2 separate regions of the Homo sapiens genome follow, and region 1 is linked to region 2. Evidence: fine-mapped expression QTL. A gene starts in region 2. The other region holds a variant in brackets. All regions are shown on one strand. Distances are between the middles of the regions. Region 1 overlaps ABCC4 (ATP binding cassette subfamily C member 4 (PEL blood group)). Region 2 holds the start of ABCC4 (ATP binding cassette subfamily C member 4 (PEL blood group)).

Region 1 (5,369 bases), 56 kb after region 2:
TCGATCTCAGCTCACTGCAACCTCTGCCTCCCAGGCTCAAGTGATTCTTGTGCCGCAGCTTCCCGAGTAGCTGGGATTACAGGCATGTGTCATCACACCTCGCTAATTTTTATATTTTCTTACTAGAGATGGGGTTTTGCCGGGCTGGTCTCGAGCTTCTGGCCTCAAGTGATCCGCCTACCTCAGCCACCTAAAGTGCTGGGGTTACAGGCATGAGCCACTGCCCAGCCTTTTTCTTTATAAGTTTTTAGTAGAAGTGGGCATCTCACTATGTTGTGTAGGCTGGTCTCAAACTCCTGGGCTCAAGCCATTCTCCCTCCTCAGCCTCCCAAAGCTCTGGAGTTACAGGTGTGAGCCACTATGCCTGGTGCATGTTAATTATTATCATTTAATGATTAATGATGTTAATTATTATCATTTAATGATTAATAATGTTAATATCATTTAAGTGATTCCTAATGGATGACCATTTTGATTTTTCTTTTTTTTTAGTAAAAAGAATCTCAAAATATTTGAATAAGTTCTTTCTGTCCTCTGCAAGATTACTATTTTGTCCTTTCGTAACTAATAAATAATTTGTACCTAGATAATTTTGGATTATGTAAATGTCCCATCAAACCTTCACTGACTGGTTTTAGCTCCCATTGAAAATGTTTTCTAACCTCATCATTCTTTATCTGAGAGTTTTTCCTTCTTACCCCATTTATGTCTCAGTAAGGATTCGTGGATTCTTTTGTTATTCAGTGGGTTAGAATTCATTGCTGTCATGATTTATTTGGATGCTTCCATTATCACAGACTTGTCTAGTGGGACCCCGTCAAGCTGGGTCCTCTGTTCTTTGGGCCCATCCTCTTGATTCCTTGAATGTTTCCTTATCGTATGGTATCTCATGGGCCATCTTTTTCTGCCCCAGCCTTTGAATCAGCTATTTCTTCAGGAAGCTCTGGTTCCTTTTAGATAATAATGGTTTTGGAAACCAAGATCTGGGCACCAGCATGCTCTCAGCTACTGGTGTGTCATTGCTTCTGGGGCCTGTCTGTGGATAGAGCTAGGGACTGTGTGTGTGTGTGTGTGTGTGCACATGTTAACTTTTCTCTCTCTAGCTCTATATATTCATATCTGTCTGTCTATATATAGCTGTATGTATTTTAAAGGTAAGTTTAAGCAAAACCCATGGAGGTAGGAGTCTACTTAAACACGGATGTGTAATTCTGGATATATGTCTCTTTTCTCTTGTTAACAGGTGGCTCAATCCCTTGTTTAAAATTGGCCATAAACGGAGATTAGAGGAAGATGATATGTATTCAGTGCTGCCAGAAGACCGCTCACAGCACCTTGGAGAGGAGTTGCAAGGGTAAGTCGGAGGCAGTAAAGTGGGCATTAAGGAAGCGTGGGTGTCTGTGTGTGGGGAGTGGGTTTTGCCTTCCTGGGTCCTGTCTGGAGCCTCCGTTTACCCTTAAGGTGAATATGTGTCACCTTCCTCAGGCTGCCCCTAGGCTCAGCCTACCATGGTGGCCTGGGGGAAACTCCTGTTGCCTGTGCCTCCGTAGAGGTCAGGGGAGCCAGCACCAAAGGCCCGAGATGCCTGAGGTCTGTCCCTCTAGGTGGAAGTGTTGTGGTTGGAGGAGGTTGTCTGGCTTATCTGTGCTACTGATGGGGCTTCAATCCAGTAAAGCTTGGCAGTAACTTGTTTCCCCAGACTTCCCCTCAAGGCCTGTTTTTCTGATGCTCCAGATTCTGTACCACACATAACCTTCAGGAGCCCTGGGAGCAATTAGTAGCATTTATGAAATCGTCACAAAATGCCCTGTCTTAAATGCATACCTGTCACTCTGCCATCTCCCCTGTTTTATATTGTGGCAGGGTTCACTCTTATTTACGAAGCTTTTTCCTCATTGTAGGTTCTGGGATAAAGAAGTTTTAAGAGCTGAGAATGACGCACAGAAGCCTTCTTTAACAAGAGCAATCATAAAGTGTTACTGGAAATCTTATTTAGTTTTGGGAATTTTTACGTTAATTGAGGTAAAAGCTTTTACATACCATGAATTGTTTTTCAGGACACATAGAGTAAATGTGCTCGCCATTGACTGGTGCTGTAATGGATGGGGGAACAGAAGGGAGAAGTGGCCAGATGGGGTTTGAAGGTATTTTAAGGTCTAAGGATTAAACATGTCTAGGAAGTATTAGGTAGTTAGTTCAGTGAGCGTATTTATCCAGGTGAATACTTAAGTGACTGAAGTTCAAGGTCATTATTGTTTTTCTTGTAACCAATTAAAATGCAGTGTCATGGAAGAAGAGTATTTTATTCTATGGTAGGACAATGTTGGTGCTCGGTAAATGTTTTAAATGCTAAGAGTCACTCCTGGTCAAAAGAGGATCCTACAGCCTTGAGGAGTGCGTGCCCTGTGGTTTAGAGGAAGTGATTTTGGATCGGAGCCCAGAATAATGTAAGACATTTTACAGGTGCTCAACAAATAATTGTTCACCAAGCCAAATCTGATAATTGCTCTTCTGGAGAGGTATTGTCACCTCTCCCCTCTCGGGGAAACAGAGCTGAGGGCCTTGCACCTGGGCTGGCGGTGGTGCCCCAGAGGCTGGAGCTGGCTGAAGCACCCAAGAGCTACCCCCTCCCAGTGGGCCCAGGTGCTGGGAGCCAAAATCCCCTCTGGGAAGAAGGTCCGAGGACTGTGCACCCAAGGGGATTCATCACACCCATCCGGTGTGTCTTCCTTGTTGTCG[G/A]AGTGGATTGCTGGTTGGAAGGTAGAGTCTTGGTGCCTGGCCCTGCAGAGAATGTATAAATGGACATTCCATGAAAAATCAAAGACAGCCAGAAGGGCAATAACCTCTGTTACCCCGAAGGGCCTCTCTTGAGATCTGCAGAAAGACAGTGTTCTGCCTAGGCACACTGCCAGGTAGCTTGTCCGTTCTGGTCTTTGGCCTGCTAGAGGAGATGCAGAGGGTCCTGCTGGGTGACTTGTGTCCTCTGTGCTACCTTAGGGATGTCAGTGGTCCATTAAAGTTAGAGGGGTGGATGTTGCTGTTGTTACAAAAGGGTGGCTTTAAATGCAGGATGGGGAGTTGTCACGGTGCATTTTGTTGGGAATGAGGTGGGTGGGGGGAGGGGGTTGGTTTGTATGTGGGGGGGTTTGCTCCTGTTGAACATGCTTTTTGTTGTGGAGGGCACGGTGGGCAGTGGGAGGCAGGTAGGTGAGCTCTGCCCTACACCAGAGGAATCTGTCAGACAACAGGGGACTGGACGGTCCTGGGAGATGAATGGTCTCATTGGTGACAAAGGTGTTTTGGCCAGGGTGCCAGATGGTGAATGCCACCTTTGAGAGGGTACCCGCCCTGCCTGCATGCTACTGTGGCTTTGTGGCAGATGGGGTGGACATGCAGAATAACCGGTGGAACTGACTTGAGGGTGGAAGAGGGCTAGGAGCCCCTCAGGTTCTCCCAGCCCCTCTTCAACCTGTGCTGGGGTGTCCCAGCGATAGTGTTTCCACATGGCCCCGATCAGTTTCAGTTGGAAAGAAATAGAATGACAAGTCGGTGTCAATGTGGCCAGTGTGTGCAGGATTTCCTGGCCCAGTTTGGCTGTGCAACCTCAGAGAAGTTGTCTGGTAGCCATGGAGCCTCTGTAAGTGTCTAAGGCTCATGCCAGGTGTCTGGTTAGGTGTAGTGGGAATCAATGGCCTCACATAGGTTTCGAGGCATGCCTCCCTCAGCTACTTCCATTTCTCTAGTTTCCCTTTGTCACCAGCTGCTTATGAAATTGAAAACAGGATGATTTAGAAGGAACTGAGCTTGTCATGCTCAGGGCTGTCCATGCTGTCATGGGCTGCCAGCCACTTGGGGTGGGGTCTCTAACCCACAGATGGTGACTGGACTACAGTGAGATTTGGGTAAGCTTTTGGGAGAAGCAGGCACAGAAGTAGAGGCTGTAGAAGCGTGAATTTCTCCTGAGACTTGAGGACAGGCCCCACTCTGGTGCAAGGAGCATGGTAATCTTTACTGCTGGTGGGCATGTGGGAAGGGGCCCGGATCGAGGGGAGCTTTAATATGGGTACAGTTGGTGGAGAGCTGGTCTTTTAGCGGGGTGGTTATTGGGCAGTCATGGCAGAAAAGTAGGGAGTGGAGGACCTGGCAAATATGGGGGCTCATGCTCAGTACTGCTTAGCAGCAGCAGTGCTAGTAGAAGCAGCAGCAGGATTAGTAGTGGTTGGTACTCAGTAGTAGTAGTAGCAGCAGCAGTGATAGTAGCAATAGTTGTAATAATACTGACAGTGAGTACTTGAAAAATACTATGTACCAGGAACTGCTATGATTTCTTTCTTTCTTTCTTTCTTTCTTTCTTTCTTTCTTTCTTTCTTTCTTTCTTTCTTTCTTTCTTTCTTTCTTTCATGTTATTTTATTTTATTTTGTTTTTTGAGATAGGGTCTCACTCTGTTGCCAGGCTGGAGTGCAGTGGTGCTATCTTGGCTCACTGCAGCTTTGGCCTACTGGGCTCAAGCAGTCCTCCCAAGTAGCTAGGACCACAGGTGCACGCCACCATGCCTGGTTAATTTTTGTATTTTTGTTTCACTATGTTGCCCAGGTTGGTCTTGAACTCCTGGGCTCAAATGATCCTCCCACCTTGGCCTCTCAAAGTGCTGGGATTATAGGCAGGAATCACCATGCTCAGTCAGAAGGCATTCTTTTAACCCTACTTTTGGGAAGAGGACACTGGGTGCCATGTAGTTATATAATGTGCCTAGGGCCACACAAAGTGTAAATGACAGAGCCCAGATTCAGTCTCAGGAGCGCTGACTTAGGGACCTAACCATCTCCAGACTGTCGTAAAGGTGTCTTGAGAACTCTGTCTTCAGAGTATCCAGCACATGCTTCTTGAACTTGGCCTAGGGATAAGTCAGATGCTAAGAGCTCCCTGGAACAGTGGGGCATGGCTGTGGGAAATCAGATTGGGGATTATAAATTACCCTAGGTTCCTAGGTGTCCTGGTGCCGGAAAGTCAGGTGACATGCTAGAGAGTGGCTGGGGTGCTGGGCAGGTCAGAGCACCAAGGTACATTCAGGTTGACCACGAACTCTTTTTTTTTTTTTATGTTTTCGTCTGAGGTGGGGTCTCACTCTGTCACTCAGGCTGGAGTGCAGTGGTGTGATCTCAGCTCACTGCAACCTCCATCTCCCTGGGCTCAAGCAATCCTCCCACCTCAGCCTCCTGAGTAGCTGTGACTATAGGCATGCACCATGCCTGGCTTATTTTTTGTATTTTTAGTAGAGATGAGGTTTTACCATGTTGTCCGGGCCGGTCTAGAACTCCTGAGCTCAAGCCATCGGCCCACCTCGCCCTCCCAAATTAATGGGATTACA
Region 2 (5,369 bases):
GACGGTTCTTACACAGTTGTTGGGGGTAGGGAGAGCATTCTGGGACAGTCTGACAGAGGAAGTCACTAGACTTCTAACTTTAGTAAACAGGTTCTCTAGCTTGGAAGTAGAACTGGTAGCTCAGCATTTACTGGGCTAGAAAACTTAGGAAGTTTCAAAGGGCACTGTAAATCAGGTGAAGGCTGACTATTTTGGTTTATAGCTTATATTATCTGAGAAAGAGCTATCAGAAAGGTAGGTTATTGAATGATCATAGCTTTCCCACAGTAGTCAACTTAAAATATTGTGTTCCTTTTTGTGACAGAAATTCTGAAACATGAGCTGGTATGCTGGCGAGTGCCTACAATCCCAGGTACTTGGAGGGGTTGAGGCAGGAGGATCCCTTGGGCCCAGCAGCTTGAGTCCAGCCTGGGCAACATACTGAGAGCCCATCTCCAAAAAGAAAACCATTCTCAAACATGCATGAAATGTAAGAAAATAAACCCCTATGACACATCATTTGGCTTCAAAAATTATCAATATTTTGCCATTCTTATGTGCTTGACTTTTTTTTTTTTTGAGACAGAGTCTCACTCTTTAGCCCAGGCTGGAGGGCAGTGGTGTGATCATAGCCTACTGTAGCCTCCAACTCCTGGGCTTAAGCAATCCTCCCACCTGAACCTCCAGCTGGGACTACAGACTCACGCCACCACACCCATCATATTTTTACATTTTTAGTAGAGATGAGGTCTCCCTTTGTTGCCCAGGCTGGTCTAGAACTCCTGGGCTCAAGCAATCCTCCCACCTGAGCCTCCAGGTTACATGGGACTACAGACTTACTCCACCATGCCCATCTAATTTTCACATTTTTAGTGGAGATGAGGTCTCCCTATGTTGCCCAGGCTGGTCTAGAACTCCCGGGCTAAAGCAATCCTCCTGTCTCCACCTCTCAAAGTGCTGGGATTATGGGCTTGTACAGCCTGGAGTGCAGTGGCACCTTCTTTTTTTTTTTGAGACGGAGTTTCACTCTTGTTGCCAAGCTGGAGTGCAGTGGGATGATCTCGGCTCACTGCAACCTCCGCCTCCTGGGTTCAAGTGATTCTTCTGCCTGAGGTTCCTGAGTAGCTGGGATTACAGGCATCCACCACCACACCCAGATAATTTTTTGTATTTTTAGTAGAGATGGGGTTTCACCATGTTGGCCAGGCTGGTCTCGAACTCCTGACGTCAGGTGATTCACCTGCCTCAGCCTCCCAGAGTGCTAGGATTATAGGCGTGAGCCATTGTGCCCAGCCCAGTGGGCACCTTCTTAACTCCTTGTAGCCTGGAACTCCTGGGCTAAAGCCATCCTCCTGTCTCAGCCTCTCGAGTAGCTGGGACTACAAGGGTACGCCACCACACCTGGGCTAATTTTTAAAACTTTTGGTAGAGACAGAGCCTCACTATGCTGGCTAGCCTGTGCTTGACTTTTAAATATGTGTTTGTGTAAGGCTTTCTTTAAAAGCTATTAACTATACTATTTTAGCAAATATACATGGGAAATTATCAAGGAACAATAAAATGATCTTGTTCCAAGCACCATGAACTTGGAGCCTTTCATTTTTTTTCATTCAGGGTGGATATGAAGAGCAGCTGCTGACCTTGTTAAGGTAGCCACAGAAATGACTGAAGACTTAGAGGTGGGAGTACACAAGCTTGGAACAAGATTTTGTTCATTCATTCCTACAGCCATTCAACCAGCATATTCTGGGCACTTCTCATGCACACTGGCCATCCACCAGGGAGACAGGCCATGCTTAGACATAGGCTTATTGCAAATCATGTTTTATCCTTTCTTGGCTCTAAGACTGGACAAGTTCTGCCTTTCAGCTTCACCTTCCTCATCTATAAAGTAAGGATAACCTTGAATGGGGCACTGATAGAATTAAAAGTGAGATAATTGGTCGGGCGTGGTGGTACATGCCTGTAATCCTAGCACTTTGGGAGGCCACGGTGGGAGGATCACTTGAGCCTAGGAGTTTGAGACCAGCCTGGGCAACAAAGTGAGAAATTATCAAGGAACAATAAAATGATCTTATTACAAAGAAAACCAAATTCTCAAACATGCATGAAATATGAAGAAAATAAACCTCCATGACAATCATTTGGCTTCAAAAATTATCAGTATTTGAACTTGGAGCCTTTGATTTTGATTTTTGCATCTCTACAAAAATTACAAAATATGAGCCGGGTGTGGTGGCGGGTGCCTGTAGTCCTAGCTACTTAAACTGAGTTGGGAGGATTGCTTGAGCCCTGGGAGGTCGAGGGTGCAATGAGCCATAATCGTGACACTGTGTGTGAGACTGCCACACACACACACACACACACACACTAGTGAGGCTACGCACTCAGAAATGCACATGAACATCACTGGTATTCTGGAACCCACGTGTCGTTTGCCACTGTTATCTGTTAGGCTTTAGGGCTTGACGACAGAAATCATCAGGCAGTCTCTCTTTCCTCTTATATTCCTTTCCCAATCTAAGGGGGCAGCAAAAAGCTCAGAGGTCCACCGTAGCATGCAACATGTGAGATGCCTAAAGCCCGCCCCCATCGACGACAGCATTCATCCATCTCCCGAATTCATCTGGGTCATACTCTCGAGTTACCCGGCTTTCTTGAGGTCTTGCAGCTCTACAAGGATAATCTGTGGCTAAACTTTGCTGTCGTCCAAGGTCAAATGTTTGGCTCACAGGTTGAAGAGCCTCCCATGGCACCGTCGTTTGGTCCTGAGAAGGGAAAGGCGCCCAGGGGGCGGGCTGCTAGAGCACGAGGCAGCTGTCTCCCAGTCTTCCCAAACCCGTAGCCGAGGGGGCGTTTCTGCGGCGCAGGGGCGGGCACAGCCGACGCCTCCCTGCTCCACCTTCTGTGTCGGCGCCTAGACTCGGATAGTGAATTTCGGAAAGTTTCACTCGGGTTCGTGCACGTGGGCACCTCCGGACCCGGCCTCCTTGCCGCGCGCTCTGCTACCCTCTCCATCCAGCGGCGCAGGCGGCCCTCGCCTCACCCCTGGGCGTAGCTCTGGGCTCCCTTTGGCGTCGCCAGCTTCGCCTCCTCCCGCCGCGTCTCCTCCCGCCGCGTCACCCGTCGGTCCCGGCCGCGCTCGCACGCGGTGCGCAGCTCCCGGGCTCCAGGCGGCGGCGCGTAGCGGGCGCCCCCGAGGCGGCGGGCCTGAGAGGCGGGGACGGGGCGTGCCGCCGGCGCCCGGCTCCCGGAAGCGGCTGCTTCACAGGCTCCAGCCGAGCGGACAGGCGTGGCGGCCGGAGCCCCAGCATCCCTGCTTGAGGTCCAGGAGCGGAGCCCGCGGCCACCGCCGCCTGATCAGCGCGACCCCGGCCCGCGCCCGCCCCGCCCGGCAAGATGCTGCCCGTGTACCAGGAGGTGAAGCCCAACCCGCTGCAGGACGCGAACCTCTGCTCACGCGTGTTCTTCTGGTGAGTGTCCCCGCCCGAAACAGGTCACCCTGCAGCCGCTGGCGCCGCGGACGCACTCTCCCGGGGCCGCGCCCGATGCTGCCCAAGCCCTCTGCGGCTGGGGGCGAGGGGAGCGCTTTCCTACGCCACGCGGTCCACGCCGGGGCTTTCTGCTGCGGGTGGCGCCGCCCCCACGCCGGCCGCGTGGTCCCTGCCTGCGCCCCGGGGCGCGGCGCAGGGGGACGCGGGGACGCGGGGCCAGTGGCTTTGCTACTGGAGGCCCTGCGGGCCCTTAGGGCTCGGGGGAGGAGGAGCAGGAGGTGGGGAGGCGGGGAACCCAGGCTGCCGAAAGGGGGAGTCTCTTGCCCAGCGGGAGAAGCGACTGCACCCCTTACACGCCCACCCTTCGCTGGCTCCCGCCTCCTGCTCTGGGACTCGCAGTCTCCTGAACTCAAACGCACCTTTTCCTTTCTTTTTAAGTAAGCAGCTTACGAACAGTTTCCTTTATCTGATCTCAGCCAAAGCCTAATTAGTGTCCTGGACCTATGCCATCTCCCAGTAGTGTCCCCACCCCTTCCGATATTCCTTACGAGACAGCTCGATCCAACTCCACGTCCCGTTGTACCTCTCTGTGTCCCGGTGTCTCTGTATCTTTTGTCTCAGTGACCAGGGCTCTCCTTTTGCCTCTTTGTGGGAATCTCACTGTGTGTCCATGTGGGTCGTGGTACCTAGTTATGGCAAGTTTCATGTGGGTAAAATAACACTATTATTATTTTTCATTTATGAATGGGGACCCTGTTCTTGAACAAGATTTTCCAGGATTTGCTTTTAACTGGGACATGCACCGCCACGACTGGAGTCTGTCTTTGACCAGCTTCTTTCCCCTGTTTCCAATACTTTCACTTCCACGTAGGAGGACAGCTCGGAGGTGGGGTCCCTGGAATCGCTAACCTTCAGAGAGGTGATCCATGGTCTTGATGCAGGTGGTTCCTACCAGGAGTTCTACCTTCTTAAAACCACCCCAGGGCTCCTGAGCTGGGAGGGCCCACAGCCCTACCCATTTTGTGCAAGGAAACAAACGGAGAAAGACTCGGGTGACAGTAGTAACTAAAATTTCCATCTTGGCCTGGCGCGGTGGCTCACGCCTGTATCCCTGCACTTTGGGAGGCAGAGGTGGGTGGATCACGAGGTCAGGAGTTCGAGACCAGCCTGGCTGACATGGTGAAACCCCGTCTCTACTAAAAATACAAAAATTAGCCGGGTGTGGTGGAGCACGCCTGTAATCCCAGCTACTCAGGAGGCTGAGGCAGGGGAATTGCTTGAACCCAGTAGGCGGAGGTTGCAGTGAGCTGAGATCGCCCCACTGTACTCCAGCCTGGGTGACAGAGTGAGACTCCGTCTTGGGGGAGTGGCGGGTGTGTGTGGGGGAATTCCGTCTGCTAACTACATAAGCCTGAACCTTTGAAGGGCTTCAATCTCACTTGGATGATTATTAGATCTTCTGTTTCTTGACCTCTGCCGCCTCATCTTTCCCACATGTTGATATTGCCTTTTATTATGGGACAACCTAGGGTGGGGGTCTCCAATTTTTTGGGTTCCCTGGGCCACACTGGAAGAATTGTCTTGGGCCATACATAAAATACACTAACACTAATCATACACTAACACTAATGATAGCTGATGAGCTAAAAAAAAATCGCAAAAAAAAATCTGATGTTTTAAGAAAGCTTACGAATTTGGCAGCCCATGGGCCTCAGGTTGGACAAGCTTGACCTAGGGGATTCCAAGAGGATGAGTCGCTTACTCTTGTTTCGATTGTGGTACACTCAGTGGGTGTAGGAACTTCTCTTGGTTGTTTGGCGGCCTTTCTCTTAAGGAGAGGGGCACGTGGAGGAGGAAGGAATATGGGTGTGGTTTCTGCAAATAATAACTTGAGGT

What was found.
Region 1: its variant is fine-mapped to the expression of ABCC4 in whole blood (INTERVAL, PIP above 0.99).

The regions. Positions count from the first base shown.
Region 1 is chr13:95,243,628-95,248,996 of GRCh38, reverse strand. It overlaps ABCC4 (ATP binding cassette subfamily C member 4 (PEL blood group)), which reads left to right. Exons shown (of 31, transcript NM_005845.5): 2 at 1,244-1,354; 3 at 1,902-2,022. Among named protein-coding and RNA genes, the nearest start is that of SNORD13G, 36 kb to the right of the region's middle. RefSeq lists an enhancer at 3,945-4,024. The variant G/A (reference allele first, on the strand shown) is at 2,740.
Region 2 is chr13:95,299,324-95,304,692 of GRCh38, reverse strand. It overlaps ABCC4 (ATP binding cassette subfamily C member 4 (PEL blood group)), which reads left to right and starts at 3,242. Exons shown (of 31, transcript NM_005845.5): 1 at 3,242-3,452. The coding sequence starts at 3,379. LOC102724149 (a long non-coding RNA gene) reads right to left here and starts at 3,742. Exons shown (of 3, transcript XR_429273.4): 1 at 3,430-3,742; 2 at 2,367-2,747. RefSeq lists silencers at 2,737-2,796, 2,977-3,036, 3,067-3,706 and enhancers at 2,523-3,297, 4,900-4,959.